Regions from separate parts of the Homo sapiens genome. Here region 2 is linked to region 1. A link means that fine-mapping ties the variant in region 1 to the expression of a gene that starts in the linked region. Tissue or cell type: whole blood. Region 1 holds a variant in brackets; the other region holds the start of a gene. All regions are shown on one strand. Distances are between the middles of the regions.

Region 1 (8,098 bases):
CATTCATATCTCCAAGAATCTTAGACTCTCATATATTCCTTGTTTTCATATCTGTGTGCTGCATGTCATGAAATTTCCTCAGATATGCTTTATATTTTTCTTATTCCCCTTTGAGCTGCAACTAATTTGCTATATTCGCTGAGCTTCTATATTATACTGCAATGAGTATTTTTTGAAGGACTCTTTGATTTCTTTTGAAATCTACTTGTTATTTTAAAATAATATTTTTATTATGTCTTCCACTCTCTTTTCTATCTTAATTATTTTAAGTATACTTATTATTATGTAAGTATACTTATTATGTAAGTATACTTATTATTATGTAGTCTTTTACAAATTGTTCTAATATCTCTAGATCTAAGATCTCCCACTGACATAGTTGCTTGCTTTTTTGCGTCATTCATGATTACTTTTTATTGTGAGCTCATCTTCATCGGGGTTAATTTTCCTGTGGATCTGTGTCTGGGCTGTGAAAGTGTCCATGCAAAGTAGCTTGGAAGTAAGTTTCTTTCATGGCTGTATATACATTTTTCTTTTTTTTTGAGATGGAGTCTCGCTCTGTCCCCCAGGGTGGAGTGCAGTGGTGCCATCTCTGCTCACTGCAACCTCCACCTCCCGTGTTCAAGCGATTCTTCTGCCTCAGCCTCCCAAGTAGCTGGGACCACAGGTGTGTGCCACCACGCACGGCTAATTTTTGTATTTTTAGTAGAGACAGGGTTTCACCACGTTGACCAGGCTGGCCTTGAACTCCTGACCTCATGATCTGCCTACCACGGCCTCCTAAAGTGCTGGGATTATGGGTGTGAGCTACTACACCCAGCCATGGCTGTATATACATTTTTATGTTAATTTCTGGATTTGGAGTTTTAGAACTATTGGACTGTGTACATTTGAATCCACACTTAACTTTTTCCTGCCATTGCCTCAGGAGGATAGAAAGCTTCACTAGCACTTCTTTTTTTTAATTTTTTATTATTTTTTTTTGAGATTGAGTGTTGCTCTGTTGTCCAGGCTGGAGTGCAGTGATGTGATCTTGGCTCATGGCAACCTCCACCTCCCAAGCTCAAGCAAGATCCTTCCACCTCTGTCTCCTGAGTAGCTGGGACTACAGGTATGTGCCACCACTCCCAGCTAATTTTTGTATTTTTTGTAGAGATGGGGTTTTGCCATGTTGCCCAGGCTGGTCTTGAACTCCTGACCTCAAATGATCCACCTGCCTCAGCCTCCCAGAGTGCTGGGATTACAGGCATGAGCCACTACGTTGGCCTTGCTACTACTTTTTTCGGATCAGCTTTACACATCCCTTTTGTACAGAGCAGCCCTTCCAGCCCTGCAGTTTATTGAAGGGGGTCGGTTCCAGCTCGCCACCTCGGGGAGTCCAGGACTCATATCCTGGCCCTGTGTTCTGCCCTGATTCTGAAGTTTTTCCCGTTCTTTCTAGCCTAAGCCCCCAACCCTGGGCCTTGTGGCTCCAAGGTGCCTCACTTACGTTCCATGATACAGCTCCTGGATCTGCTCTTGAATAAAACCTCCCAGTTTCACCATCTCCCTTCCGGTCACAAGGGTGCTCTTTCCGGCTCCAGGCTCTGCAAGGCAGTTGTGCTCAGAGCCCCAGAGCAGGCCCTACAGCACAGATCCTGCAGACGGGCACAGCCTCCACCTCCCAAGAACTCCAGGCTCTGACTCATTAGTCAACTTAGTCCATAGCTTTCTAGCAAAAAAAAAAATTGTGACGCAGGCCAACTGAGACCTAGAACTTTTTAGTCATGGAAGCCAGGGTCTTTTGGTGCACCTGGATCACTGATTCTTGACCTAGGATAGTCTTGTACTCTCAGGAGACATTTGACATGTCTGCAGACATTTCTTTTAAGAGAAGGGGTCTCACTATGTCACCCACGCTGGAGTGCAGTGGTATGATCCTAGCTCACTGCAGCCTGAACCTCCTGGGCTTAAGCGATCCTCCTGCCTCAGCCTCTTGAGTAGCTGGAACTCCAGGTGTGCCCCGCCATACCTGGCTAATACTTATATTTTTTGAAGAGAGAGGGGTCTTGCTATGTTGCCCAGGCTGGTCTCGAACTCCTGGGCTCAAGAGATCCTCCCGTCTCTGCCTCCCAAAGTGCTAAGATTACAAGCATGAACCACCGTGCCCTGGAGACATTTTTGATCATTGCAATTGGTGGTGGTGATGGGAAAATTGTTCCTGGTGTCTAGTGGATATAGGCCAGAGATGCAGCTAAATATCTTATAATGCACGGAATGGCCCTAACAACACAGAAGTATCCAACCCCAAACACCCACAGTGAGTCCTGAATCCCGAGGGGGTGAGCCCTCTGTCCGCTCTGGGTAGAGGGATAGAGAAGCTGGCTAAGGCCCTATCCCAGGGTATTCCCTGTGGGGAAGCTTGGAGCTGAGGCTGGGACTGGAGGAAGGATGTCTTTCATCAGATCTGGAGGACGCCAGATATCCTGACTGCTCCCGGCTGGCACAGGGAGCCTCATCTGAGCCCACGAGCCAGGGTGCATCCCACATCCCACCCGATCTGCCCACGAGGCCTCCCACCCGGCCCCTCCCTGGTGCAGCCCTGCACACACGCGCCAGCCACACGCACGCCTGTGTGATGTGGTGAGCAGGCCCCGTATGATGTGGGGAACGGGCGTGTGGTCGTTGGAGCAGGCCAGGCCCTCCTGGGGGCGGTGAGGACATATCTCTGGTGCCATCTTTCCTGTTCTGATAAATAACTGATCTGTGGTTGAGGCAAGAAGGTCACCTCTGCCCAGGGAAGCTCAGGAACAAACCACTTGTGACCGGTGGGAAGAGCCCGGGGGGGCAGCGGGAAGTCTGTCTTCCCTGGCCACCGGGCTGCTGGGGGCAGATTTCAGAAAAGGGAAGTGCTGAGCTGGGGCAGTGCTTCCTGTGGTCGCGGCAGGCAGGGCATCAGGGCGGGCACGGCAAATCAGAGGGGTGACTGCCCTAGCTTGGAGGGGCAAGGAGCTGGGGTCCCTGGCTGGGCCCCATGTGCTGCCAGCCTTCATGCATTGGGCTGAAGGCCTGGGGGGGATGGAGGAACATACTAGAACACCAACAGCACTGAAGCTCCCCTGCTTGGGAGTGCCCCTGGGCTCCTCTCTGCACTCAGAGTGAAGTCCCCCTGGGCTTCGTGATTTGCTCCTCAGCCTCTGCTTCTCTGGCACCTGCTCGTCAAGTTCCCTCTGCATAGGGCCCCCTTCTCCCACCAGCTCTGAGCACTGGGGTCGGTGGAGGGGGCACCCCCTGCCCCTTCCCCTCTGCTAAGCCCGGAGCCCCTGGCTTGGCTGCTCTGGGAACCCTCTTCATCCCCAAAGGAAGGCCTGAGCCCAGGAGCCTGTGAGATCCTTCCCAGGCCCTGGCGCCCCTCTGGTGGGCAGCTGTCTGTACCCCTCTTCTATACTTAGGGGGGATCTGGTGCAGGGGCTTAGGAGCAAGGGAGGTGGCCGGGCCTCTGTAGTTCCTGGAGCTCCCATTTCCTCTTCCACTAAACTCTCAGCATCACCACATGACCCAGACTGTGAACCCAGGGGAGTGCTCGGTTGGGGAGGGGAGTGGAGGGAAACCGGCTCCCTCCTGTCCCAGCCCTGAGCACCAGCACTGCGGTTCCAGCTCCCTGCAGGCACTTCCTGCCTGCTCTGGGAAAGCACAGATGGCTGCCACGCCATCACAGCCCTGGGGTTGAGCCCAGACCCCCGAACCTTGACTGTCCAGCCCTGCCAGACCCCGTCAGGATCCACATAGACCCGATGGGTTGCTCTGTCTCCTTGGCTCTGGCCGAGTCCATGGACAAGGAGCATGGCTCCATCCGCCCCGCTCAGCTCTGTGCAGCCCACAGCCCTGCCTGCCCCACCTGAGGGTTGGGGCTCTCTGGACTGGTCAGGGGTGTGTGCTGTCCCTGCCACCCTGCCCCAGCTGAGGCCTGTACCTGGCAGGGGTCGAGCCAGTAAAATCATTGTCCTGCCCTAACCCATGGTGTCTAGGCAGTATGGGCAGGGCCAGGGAGGGCCCATCCAGCCTCGCACCCCACCACTCACCGTCTTGCTCTCTCCTTTTCACTCCCTCTGTCTCCTGACCTTGGGTCACCTCTTCCCTTTCTTGCTCTCACTCAGTCCCTTCTCTCTGTTTTTCTGTTTCTTATTTTGAGACAAAATCTCACTCTGTTGCCCAGGCTGGAGTGCAGTGGCAC[G/A]ATCTTGGCTCACTGCAACCTCCACCTCTTGGGCTCAAGCGATTCTCCTGCCTCAGCCTCCCGAGTAGCTGGGATTACAGGTGTGCGCCACCACGCCTGGCTAATTTTGTATTTTTAGTAGAGATGGGGTTTTGCCATGTTGACCAGGCTGGTCTTGAACTCCTGACCTCAAGTAATCTGCCTGCCTCAGCCTCCCAAAGTGCTGGGATTACAGGCATGAGCCACTGTGCCTGGCCTGTTTTTCTGTTTCTCTATCACTTTAGTAAGTCCTTCTAGCCCCCAGGACCCCCCAGCCCCTCTCTGTATCTGCACACATTTGTCAGTCTGTCCCTCCACCACTGTCCTTGTTTCCTCTCTCTTCCTCGTCACCCTGCCCTGACCTGGGGGGTTTGTGTCTCTCTGTCTCTCTCCGCCTGTCTCCATCTCCCCCTTATCCTCACTCTCTCTCTGTCTGTCTCTCATTTTCATTCTCTTTCCTTTCCTCTTTCTTTTTATTTTATTTGTATGGGTCCATAGCAGGTGCATATATCTACGGGGTACATGACATACTTTAATACAGGCATGCAATGTGTCATGATCCATCAGGGTTAATGGGGTCTCCGTCCCTCAAGCATTTATCTTTTCTCTGTGTTACAAACATTCTCATCATGCTCTTTTAATTATTTTTAAATGTACAGTAAATTCTTGGTGACTGTCATCACCCTGTTGTGCTATTAAATACTGAATCTTTTTTTTAAAAAAATTATTTTAAGTTCTGGGATACATGTGCAGGACGTGCAGATTTGTTACATAGGTCAACGCGTGCCATGGTGGTTTGCTGCACAGATCAACCCATCACCTGGGTATTAAGGCCTGCATGCATCAATCCTGGATCTTAGTCATTCTACCTAACCATATTTTTGCACCCGTCGACCATTCCCGCTGCCCTCCCCTCCCTCTCTTTCTCCCCCTCTCTCATTCTCTCCCCATTTTCATTTTCTCTCTCTCTTCTCATTCTCTTTCTTCCTCTCTCTGTCTCTGCCTCTGCAATCACCCCTGGTCTTCGCCCTCCCTGTCTCTGCTCCCCGGAGTCCCTGCACGTGGCTTGACAGTGGCCTTGGTAGGACCCACTGGGGTGTTTCTTCGTCGCCCATGGGCCCTCATGCTGTTATCAGTTGGAAATGAATCAGAGATTAGGAAGCGGGGGGAGTGGTGGGGGTGTTATCGCCCAGTGCACACGGGGCTCTCAGCTAATCTCTGGCGGCCCTGGGTTCGAGAGGAAATGCAGTTGCAACACTGAGTCCTTCTTACCGTCACTGTCATGTCCGCGGCGAGGCTGTGGGGGACACGGGCAAGAGATTGGAGAGGGGAGAGGGAGAGGAGAGAGGGCCTGGCCTGAGCTCCTGGCAGGCGTTTGTACAGGCTCACGTGCACACGTGTGCACACACAGCATGTACACCTCCTGGCCCTTGACACCTGAGCCGTCGCCAGGCCTTGCCTGTCACCCTTCCATTGCCTCTGCATGCCCGCACCTGTCCACGTCTTCCCCTGCCGCCCCACGTCCCCAGCCACCATCTCTCTTCATGGGATGGCAGCTCTGGCCTCATCCAGGCTCTTAGCCAACAGAGTGGCCATATTATTATTATTATTTTATTTTATTTTATTTTTTTGAGATGGAGTCTTGCTCTGTCGCCCAGGCTGGAGTGCAGTGGTGCAGTGTCAGCTCACTGCAAGCTCCGCCTCCCAGGTTCACGCCATTCTCCTGCCTCAGCCTCCCGAGTAGCTGGGACTACAGGTGCCCGCCACCACCCCCGGCTAATTTTTTGTATTTTTAGTGGAGATGGGGTTTCACTGTGTTAGCCGGGATGGTCTCGATCTCCTGACCTCGTGATCTGCCCGCCTTGGCCTCCCAAAGTGCTGGGATTACAGGCGTGAGCCACCGTGCCCGGCCCAGAATGGTCGTATTATTAAATGACCACATGATCGGGCTGCTTTCCGAACTTCACCTTCCCACGGTTCTAGGAAGCAGCCACCATTATCATGGTGGCCTCCAGGCTTGCGTGTCTAGCTCCTGTCCTTCCTGCCCTCACCTCCCACACCCCTTGGCTTCCTAGCACCTGCAGTTCTGCCTCGACCCCTCCTCAGTGCCCCGGCTTTTGCAAATGCTCTCCCCTCTGCCTGGAAAACTCTCCTCCCCATGACAACTCCCATGCCTCCTATGGCACTCGGCTTTCCTGTCCTTCATGAAAGCATCCAGGGTCCCCGAGTGCCAAGCTGCAGCAGGTCCCTTGTCTCGGGGCTTCCACCCTCGAGGCGTGAGCTCCCCCTGTCACCATCCTGCCTAGGGATTATGGGTGTAATTCCTACTTCCTGCTCACCTCCTGCCAGACTGTGGGCCTGATGGGGCAGGGACCGAGCCCTCCAGTCTGTCTAGGGCCTGGCCGCACCAGGCAGTGATTGAATGAACAGATCCATAAACACACCGAGAGACACGGATGTACCCAGGCCCATGCACAGACACACAAATGCAGTCACCAGCCATGCACGGAAACTCACATTGACAGACGCTCAACCTCACAAACGTGCAAACCAAAGTTACCTAGAGACGCACGCAGTGACCAAGACACACACACGCCCACTGTCTTCTGTCTATGCTCTGGGCTCACTGCCTCTCATCCAGCCCTGCCCCTCGGGCAGGATCCCCTGCGGGTGTGGGCCTCCTGCACTGCAGCCCTGGCCTTAGCTCCAGGGGGCCAATCCCATGTTATGGGCCCCCAGCAGGATTCTCTGGGCCCCAGCCGTGGTCTTGCCACGTGACTACTTACAAGTGGCTTTTATGCTAAATGCACATAATAGCACATTGGCATAATATCATTGCCAATACTCACAGGTACCATGGTTCACACAGGGAGCATGGTGTGAAGCTCCTCTTACAGGGCTTGTTAGAGGAAAGTTCCAGCTCAGGCAAAGGCTTGGGGTGGAGCGGACAAAGCTACAGTTTGGCCTTTTCCTCAGCAGCGTCCTGCTTCTAGAATCACCACTAAAGTTAACCCAGGCGAGGGGTTCTCTCCCAGCCTCCAGGAGGCTCCAGCTGGAGGCAAACCGCCGGTCTGGGAGAGGTACAGTGGCCAGGGAGAGGAAGGGTTTCAGGGTGGTGTGGGTGGTAGGGGCTGAAGGCAGGGGCAGCAGGGCAGGGCCTGGAGGCCAGCAGCACAGAGGGTCCCCACCTGGCTTCATTTTGGGGGAGGGGGCTGGGCAGGGTATCTGGCGGAGGAAGCAAGAAGGGGTGGCCTCAGAGACTGGCTTGCGGAGATGGGGCTGCATTCCCTGTGGAAGGGAGTGGGCCTTCACGGCTTCAAGGCCGTTTGTCACCTAAAGCAGCTACGGGCATCTTCTCTCTTCCCTCTTTCTTTTTAGAGACAGTGTCTCACTCTGTCTCCCAGGCTGGAGTGCTGGGGTGCGATCATAGCTCACCGCAGCTGCAAACTGCCGGGCTCAAGTGATCCTCCCACCTCAGCCTCCTGAGTAGCTGAGACTACAGGTGGGCACCACCATGCCCAGCCAATTTCTGTATTTTTTGTAGAGATGGCTGTGTTGCCCAGGCTAGTCTCAAAGTCCTGGCCTTAAGCAATTCTCCTGCCTCAGCCTCTTAAAGCACTGGTATTAGAAGAGTGAGCCATGGCGCCCTGCCTCTCTTAAAGATGGCTTTAACCATCACTTACAGCACAGCTGCATCCCTCCTTGGCGGGGTGGGGGAGATTCTTTCCCACCTCTCTGAGTGTCCCCATCTGGGTCCTTGCTCAGTGAGAGCCAGACTTTCTGCTATAACCAGGCCCTGAATGAGAGAGAACCAGAGTCATGTGCTGTGCACCAAATGCAGTGGGAAGACACGAGGGATGCCTCGGT
Region 2 (8,098 bases), 40 kb after region 1:
CAAAGCCCACCCTGGAACTCAGGACCAGGAGGAGGACTCGGGGTAGGAGGGATCCCTTCCGGGAGCCATCAGCTTTAAAAGAGGAAGCCCCTAGCGGGCTGGCACAGCAGAGAGGAGGGGAAGGAGTGAGGGCAGGAGGGTCGCCCCACCCCCTCCCGTCCTAGGACCTGTTCTGGGGGGAAAGGGGGAAGCCAGGGATCAGCCCCCTCAAACAAGAAAAACTGGAATTAGCACTGAACTCAGAGGGTTTGCTGGGGCTTAGCAAGCTGCGACCTGCCCCAGGCCTCGGGGCACGCGGCGGGGCTCTGCCTCCTCTGTTCCCAGGGTGGCGGGGCAGGCGCCGCCTCCTCACTGGGCTCGTGGCCTCTCCTCTGCCAAGGGCGGCCGTGGGTGAGGAGGCGGCCAGACACAGGACAGAGTGGGGGGCCGGAAGGGGTGCCAGCTAACCACGCAGGCAGGTAAAGCTAAGCTTCCAGAGTGTAAAAGGAATGTGTAATTTCTCGAAAATGCCCCAGCCCGCATTGGTACACACAGTAAGCCACTCAGTGAACATTCTCTCGGTACAGAGTTAAAAAAAAAAGAAAAGTGCAATTTATCTTTTACCCTCCGTGAGGGTAAAATCTGAAAAGCACCATCAGCCTCCTGGGCCTCTTTCTCCCGGGCCTTGTTAGTTCAGGGATAAGGGCTGCCCTCCCTTGCTTGGCTGTCACTGCTGCTAAGGGGGTGCCGGAGTGCCTGACCTTACAGGGTGCTCATTGGAGTTGGGGGCACACCAGCACTCAGTCCCCTGCTGGGTCTGGGATGAATGCAGTGGGGAGTGTGGATGCTGGGTGGGTTCTTGAACAGCCAGTGTGTGGGGCAGGACCAGACCCCTGTTGCAGGCCTGCCTCAGCCCCCTTTCTTGTGAGGGCTGGGGCTGGGCAGGTGTGGAGGGCTGGATGGAGGGGTCTCTCTCTTCAGGCTGCCTTCGGGCCTCGCAGGGGTAGGGTGTAGCCACATGGTCTAGGGAAAGAGGAGAGGGTTGGAGGGTCCTACCACTGGAGGCCTCTTCCTGCTGGCCGAGGGTCCTGCTGGAATCTGGAGCTGCGGTGTGTGTGAGTGGCCAGGGCTGCAGCTGTAGGTGATTTGCAAGGAAGTCTGCACAAAGGGCTCCTTGAGCCTAGGGCTGCTTAGCCAGGCCTACCCCTCAGGCAGAGGACTCCCTCTCCTCCTCCCCGGGGCAGATAAGAAGCCTCGCCAAGGCCTCAGCCCAGTAACCCCTTCAGCCCCCTCCCCTGACCCCAAGAGACTGCCTTCAGGCTCTGGACATACTCCATTTGGAGCCTTGTCCTCTGCTATTTATTTGTCTTGCCTGGGGGAAGTAAGTCACCCCCTTAGGGTAAGAGGGGCTCAGGATGGATGGAGAGCTCATGAAAGTCAGGATTGCCGCCAGGGAAAATGCTGTATTATTTACAAATGTGACCTGGCCCACAGACAACCTTGGAAGTAGCTTCTTTCTGGTTTTAAAAAGACACCGACATTGACTTTGATATGTTTATATTATAGATATAATACATAAAACATCTAGAGTGAGACTCTACGTTCTCCCCAAAAGAAGAGAACCAAGCCGTCCTTCCCTGCTCCCAGCCCCAGTGATGCGTTGGCGGGAGGCCACCTCCCTTCCCGACCAGGAGCCAGGGCCTCTGGGGGACAAGCCTTGTGGGCAGCCCAGGCCGGAGGGGCTGGGGAAAGCTGAGGGCAAAGGAGAACCCCCCTCACCTCATTGGTCCCCCAGGATCAAAAGTAATCCCAAAACCAAAAGGAAAGGGAGTCTCAGACCCTTCCCCCAGCTGCCGACGGAGAGTCTCATTTTGGCAAGTATCCGAGCAAAACCAAAACAAAACAAAAACCAAATAAAATGGTGGTTTAGCAGAGACGCGCACATTCACATTGCACAAGGCACTGCTGGGGCACAGAGGCCAGATACAAGTGTTGATATCGGCTGATAAAGCAAAATATTTGGAAAGCTTGTCATAACTCCGGTCCCTCTGGGATGGACTGATCGTGCTTCGTGTTCCTAGGCAATGCTGAAGGCATACAGTACAAACAAGGCTGAGGGTCCCAGTGGCCCTTCACCCCCCATGCCCGCCCCACAGCCAGATCTCTAGGTCTCCCTCTCCCACCAGGGGTATACATCCTCAGAGCTGACCCACGACCTAGCTTTCTGGTGTGACTCGGGGTGGGGGCTCCCACTGGTCACCTGGTGACCCCCATCGCAGTGAGTTCCGCCCCAAGGGGAAGCCCAGCCTATAGCAGGCTGGGGTGGGGTGTGTGCGGAGGGAGGTGGGAGAGGCGTGGAACTAGAGACCCTCCACCTTCATGTAGAACTAGGGGAACAACCTTAGGTTCCAAGCCCCAAGTCCCTATGTTTCCACCCCTTTCTAAGGACAGGCGTGGAGGAGCGGCTGGGGCTGGCGGGCTTGTCGGGATCTCAGCTCCCTGAGCCCTCCTCCTGCCACGGGCCTGCTCCCCTCCTTCTCTCATGGGGGTCTGCTGTAGCCTCGGGAAGGAGGCAGGAAACCTCCAAATAAAATGACAAGGCACGATTTGCTCCCCCTACTCAGTAGGCATTGGAGCGGTGAGTTTGCATTTCCAAGGCACAAGGTTATCCTAAATACTAGAGTTGCCGGGCTCCCAGCTCAGCCCCAAGAATTCTCCCCTCCTCGCAGGGAGAAGCCACCGCCTGGCCCCCTCATCTTAGACGCACCAAGTCCGGCGCAGAGGAAGGGAGGGGACACGCGGAGCAGGCCAGGCTTTCAGGAGGCACCGGAATCTCCTAGTCCTGGCTCGCACGGCTCGGGCAAGCCTCGAGATCCGGCGACCCCAAACCACTCCCTGGGTCCCCGCCGGAGGCTGGCCCAGGGCGGTCCCACAGCCGCGCGCCTCACGCGCAGTTGCCCATGGCCTTGACCAAGGAGCTCTCTGGCAGCTGGCGGAAGATGCCCCGCAGCGTGTCCAGTTCGCGGCTCAGCTGTTCCACCCGCTTGCGCAGGCGGTCATTGTCACTGGTCAGCTCCAGCACCTTCTGCTGCGTCTCCACGTTGCGCTGCTTGGCCTTGTCGCGGCTCTTGCGCACCGCGATGTTGTTGCGCTCGCGCCGCACCCGGTACTCGTTGCTGTTCTTGTCCACCGACTTCTTGGCCTTGCCCGCGCCGCTGCCGCCACTCGCGCGGAGGTCGGGGTGCGCGGCGCCCAGCCCCTTGAGCGCGCTGCCAGGGCCCGGCAGGCCGGCGGCACCGAGCGCGGGCGCGGGGTGCGGGCTGGGCACGGGCGTGGGCGGCGGCGTGGGGTGACCGGGCTGCAGGTGCATGGTGGTCTGGCCGCAGTGCGCGATCTGGAACTGCAGGTGCGGGGCGGCCAGGTGCGCGGGCGGCGGGTGCGGGTGCGGGTGCGAGGGCGGCGGCGGCGGCGGCGGCTGGTAAGGGAAGAGGCCGGCCAGCGCCAGCTGCTTGGCTTCATCCTCCTCGCGGGGCTCCTGCTTGATCACCAGCGGCCGCAGCGCCGGCGCCCCGACGCGCTCGTACAGGGGCTCCAGCCTGCCGTCCAGGTAGCCGGCGGCCGCGCAGCCGTAGCCGGGCGGGGGCCCGTGCGCTCCCCCGGGCATGACGGCGCCGCCGGGGCCCGCGGGCGCGCCCGGGTAGTCAAAGTCGCCGCCGCCGCCGCCGCCCGTGGGGCCCACGGCCGCCTTGGCCTTCTCCTGCTGCCGGCTGTGCTGGAACAGGTCGGCCAGGAACTCGTCGTTGAAGGCGGCCGGGTCGATGTAGGCGCTGATGTCGATGGACGTCTCGTGCTCGCAGATGCCGCCCAGCGGCTCCGGGGCGGCAGGTGGGGCGGGAGGCTGCGCGGGGCCCGCGCCCCGGGGAAAGCCGAAGGCGGCGCTGCTGGGCGCGTGCGGGGGGCTCTGCAGGTGGCTGCTCATCGGGGGCCGCGGCTCCGCCTCGTAGAAGTCGGCCGACTCCATGGGGGAGTTAGAGTTCTCCCGGCATGGCGAGCCTCGGCGGCCTCCAGCCTGCGCGGGGCGTCGCCGCCGCCCACCCGGAGACCCTGCTCGCCCGCGCCCGCGCACCTCCGGGTCGCGAATGGCCCGGCCCGCGCCGGCCCAGCTTTTATACCCGGCAGGCCGCGTCGCCCCCTAGAGTCCGAGGCGGCCTCTGTCCCCGGGCTGCGGCGGCGCGGCGCCTGCTGGGTCCTAGCGCGCGGCCGGCATGGGGCGGCGAACCAGCGCGGCACAGCGCCGCGCTCCCCAGGCAGGCCGCGGCGCAACGCCCACCGCCTCCAGCGCGCCCAGCAGAGCCGCGGCGCTCGCTCCAAGCTCCGCCCCCGGCCCGGCCGTCGCCCCCGCGCCCACGTGGTCGGTAGCGGGGGCCCCCTCCTCCTGCCTGCCCTAGGCGCCCGTATCCAGCCACGGCCGGGAGCCCAGGAGTATCCCGAGGCTGCACGGGGTAGGGGTGGGGGGCGGAGGGCGAGTCTTGGTCTTGAGCTGCTGGGGCGCGGATTCTCTTTCAAAGCCAGAACCAGGCCTGTCCCGGACCCGCGTCCCGGGGAGGCTGCAGCGCAGAGCAGCGGGGCTGGGGCCGGTGGGGGGCCGTTTGGGACGCGCGGAGAGGTCCTGAGCGCGGTGGCTCTGCGTCTCCTAGCTCTGATCTCCAGGCTACCCCTGTGATTCCGCGCAGAGGTACCTCTCGGAGGACGCCGGGGTCCCATGGGCGGCGCCGCGCAGGGCGCTAGGACCCCGCGGGGAGCGGAGGCGGCCTCGGCCCGGGAGCCTGGAGGACCTGGCCGGTCGATCCGCCCGGGCTGGAAAACTTTCTTTATAATTACTTCTCCAGGTCGGAGCGCGCGGCTTGCTAGGCGCGCGGGGCCGGCGCTGTTACCCGGCGTGGAGTCGCCGATTTTTTTTCCTGCGGGACCGCGGGGCCCCCCAGACTAGCGGAGCTGGACGCCGGGGCGAGCACGGGGAGGGGCGCACCGAGGGAGGAGACAAACTTAACTCTGGGGCCGGGATTCCGAGGCGGGGGCCGCAGCCCTCGAGGCCCGAAGCCACCGCTTCCTCCCCCGCCTCCCCATTCAGGTGGGCGCCAACGGCGGGAGCGAGGGTGTCCAGGCCGCCGGGCTGCCAGGTCCGAGCACGCACAGGGAGAACTCTGCCCAGTGGTTCGCCGGGCGCTGTAGTCCCCGGGATCCTAGGGACCGAGGCGGCCAGGCCCTGGGGCCCCTTGAGTGCGGCAGCTAATGCTCTCACCGCGGCGGGGGAAGGAGCTTGCCACCGAGACCCCCAGCCACGTGCGTCCCTCGCATTCTTTACCGGGGCCGGGGTGGCGGCTACGGACCGTCAGCTGGGCCCAGATGGAGTCTTGGGAGCCCTCAAGTGTCTCCTGTCCTTGCCCGCGCCGCCCCTCGCCACTGGCGCTGAGGCCTGACGCCGCCTGCGTCCCGGCTAGAGGCGCGCTTGCCTACAGGTGAGGGAAGACCCCCTTCACCGACAGTGGCCTTAGGCCTGGCAAGGCGCCACGACCCGCCCAGGAGCCCCGGAGGGGGCACAGCTAAAAACACCGCTGGAGAGCCCCGAGCTTCCACGACGATCGCAGTAAAGAAGCAGTTTCATCTGGGCAACGCACACTGCGCTTTAATCAAGTTCCTATTCAACATAGTCCCAGTGATTAATAGCCCAACTGCTTCGTTTTCGGTCCAGAGCTCATAAACAAGATATTTTTAGCTTGACGCTTTTGGACGGGAGGGAGTAAAAACCAGATACGTTAAATAAATATCCCGATGTGAGCCGGAGAGCTGCTTGCTGAGCCAAATGCAGGACCCATTCATATAGCATTCACCTGTGGAGGGAGACCTGGACGGAAATCAAAAAGCACCAAGAGCGATTTGCGTTTTTTTCTGCGGTGCTAAAACTAATGGCTTTTCCTACCTAGGAACAAAGAAACGCCACTGTACATGCACGGTTCCCGGCCTGTGGAGTTGTGGGAGGAAGGCGATGTCTGGCCTTTTTTGCACAGCTGCTGTTGCCTGCCCAGAGATCGGGAACTCTGCCCCGTAGGACTGGAAGAAACCTCAGTAATGGGAATAAGACTTTGTCCAATAGGGGGCTGATGAATGTGTGGGGGCGACAATGGCAAGGAGTGGGACTCCCGGCCCGGGGTTCGCCAACCCCAGGGGCCACAGGTCCTCCTACAATTGAACCAGAATTCACCCACCCGGGCCTGCCCTGTGCAGGGTGCCGAGAGCCCAGGGATGCATGAGAGGGTGGCTCCTGCCTCTGGGAACTGGGACAGTGGGAGAGACGGATAAGTTGTCACACAGAGGCTGCTGGGAGGAAGGAGGAGACAGAAGGAGTAGGGGATGGGACTTCATTCATTCATCAAATGCACACGAGGCACAAATGGGAATCAAGGGTGGATGTGCTGTGATGAAGAGAAGTCCTGCCCTGAACAAGGTGGCGCTGTGGAGGAGGCAGAGATCAGATTTGTCTGCGGAGGTGTTATGGACTGAACTGTGTCCCTGCCCCAAATTCCTATGTTGAAGGCCTAACCCCCATGTGACTGTATTTGGAGATAAGGCTTTTAGGAAGTCATTAAAGTGAGATGATGTCATATGGGTAGGGTCCTAATTTGATAGGATTGGTGGCCTTATCAGAAGAACAATGTCATGGGCATGCACAGAAAGGAGGTGGCCGTCTGCAAGCAGGGAAGAGGCCCCTCACCAGAACCTGAGGGTGCTGGCAGCTTGGCTTTGGCCTTGGGCATCCAGCCTCCAGAACCATGAGAAATAAATGTTTATGGTAGGTCTATGATGGCAGCCTGCTTGGACTGAACCGGCGGTGAGACAGGGCTTCATGCAGGAGCAGACCTTTGAGCTGGGCCTTGAAAGTTGAGCAGGAATTTGCTGGAAGGATAAGGGAGGAAGGCTCTTCTAGGAGGAGGGAATGGTAAGTGCAAAGGTGGAGAGCCTGCCAGTGCATGTGTTCTGGTAACAAAGAACGAGATGGTTGGCCGGCTGGAGAGTGGGGTGAGGGAGGGTGGGGCCTAGATAAGGCTGGATCCGCAGACAGGGCTGGGCTGATGGCCAAGGCCACTGCAGGTGAAGGGGGAACCCTTATCTCCCAGGCTTTTGACCTCCAGATTTTAGCAGGGGAGCTTCGTTGTCGGATTTGGGTTCCTGAGAATCTACTCTGGCCAAGACGGAGAGGGGGTGTTGACCAGATGGGAAAGGATGGAGACTTGTATTGCCCCAGTAATGAGCGGGCAGGGTAGATTAGAACAAGATGTCAGGACTTGGGGGCTGAATGCCAGGCTTCTGGCTGGGATTACCACCCCCTGACACATATAATGCCCAGGAAATTGGAGGCCCCTCTCCAAGCCCCCAGGAGGCCACTGGGGACTCATTCCAGGATACTCACCTGCCTGCTTTGTGGTTTTGGAGGGGAAGACCTTGGAGCAGTTGCGAAGATCCATCTACCATGTTCTGGTTTTTCCTTGGAAGCCTAAAAGTGTACCTCGGGATGAGGAGGAAATGGTTTTGAGGGCAAGTGGTAGGTCTCTGGCTAGGCCTGGCGGGGTTCTCAGAGGACAGGGGGTGTCTAGGGCCCTAGATAGAAGTGTCCTGCCCAAGCCCTAAAGCAGGAAATTAGCTGGGGAGTTGGGGTGAGACCCTGGGGTCGATGGAGGCACTTTCCATGGGAGAGTCCCACAGGGTAAGGGAGAGGGGGCTGATGTCTGACAGTCTCATAGACAGTTGGCTTGTGGCTGGAGAAGTGGGAGCAAAGGAGAAATCACCTTTGATTGGGAGAAGTGGCTCTGGCTCATGTGCAACTGAGACAAAGCCAGTCCTAAGAGCAGCTTGTAAATTCTTCTGTGACCACCTTTAAGGTCCTTCTTCCTGAGGCTGTGGATGGGGGTGTACACAGGCCCAGTGTGGGGGGTTGAGCGTGAGTCCCCGGGAAACGGTGGTCCTGAGTTTTGGATGCTCCAGGATGAAGCCTGATTCTGGAGTCAATCACAGCACTAACCATTTTGAGAAGACAAACAGAGCCCTAGAAATGTTTTATTTT

The links. PIP is the estimated chance that this variant, and not a neighbour inherited with it, causes the effect.
Region 2: CEBPA starts here. The variant in region 1 is fine-mapped to the expression of CEBPA in whole blood (INTERVAL, PIP 0.95).

What each region holds. Positions count from the first base shown.
Region 1 is chr19:33,258,124-33,266,221 of GRCh38, forward strand. No RefSeq gene overlaps it. Among named protein-coding and RNA genes, the nearest start is that of SLC7A10, 36 kb to the left of the region's middle. The variant G/A (reference allele first, on the strand shown) is at 4,214.
Region 2 is chr19:33,298,415-33,306,512 of GRCh38, forward strand. CEBPA (CCAAT enhancer binding protein alpha) reads right to left here and starts at 4,120. Exons shown (of 1, transcript NM_004364.5): 1 at 1,520-4,120. The coding sequence starts at 4,000. The coding sequence ends at 2,924. It overlaps CEBPA-DT (CEBPA divergent transcript), which reads left to right and starts at 4,407. Exons shown (of 1, transcript NR_026887.2): 1 at 4,407-6,643. RefSeq lists silencers at 3,951-4,520, 4,601-4,860.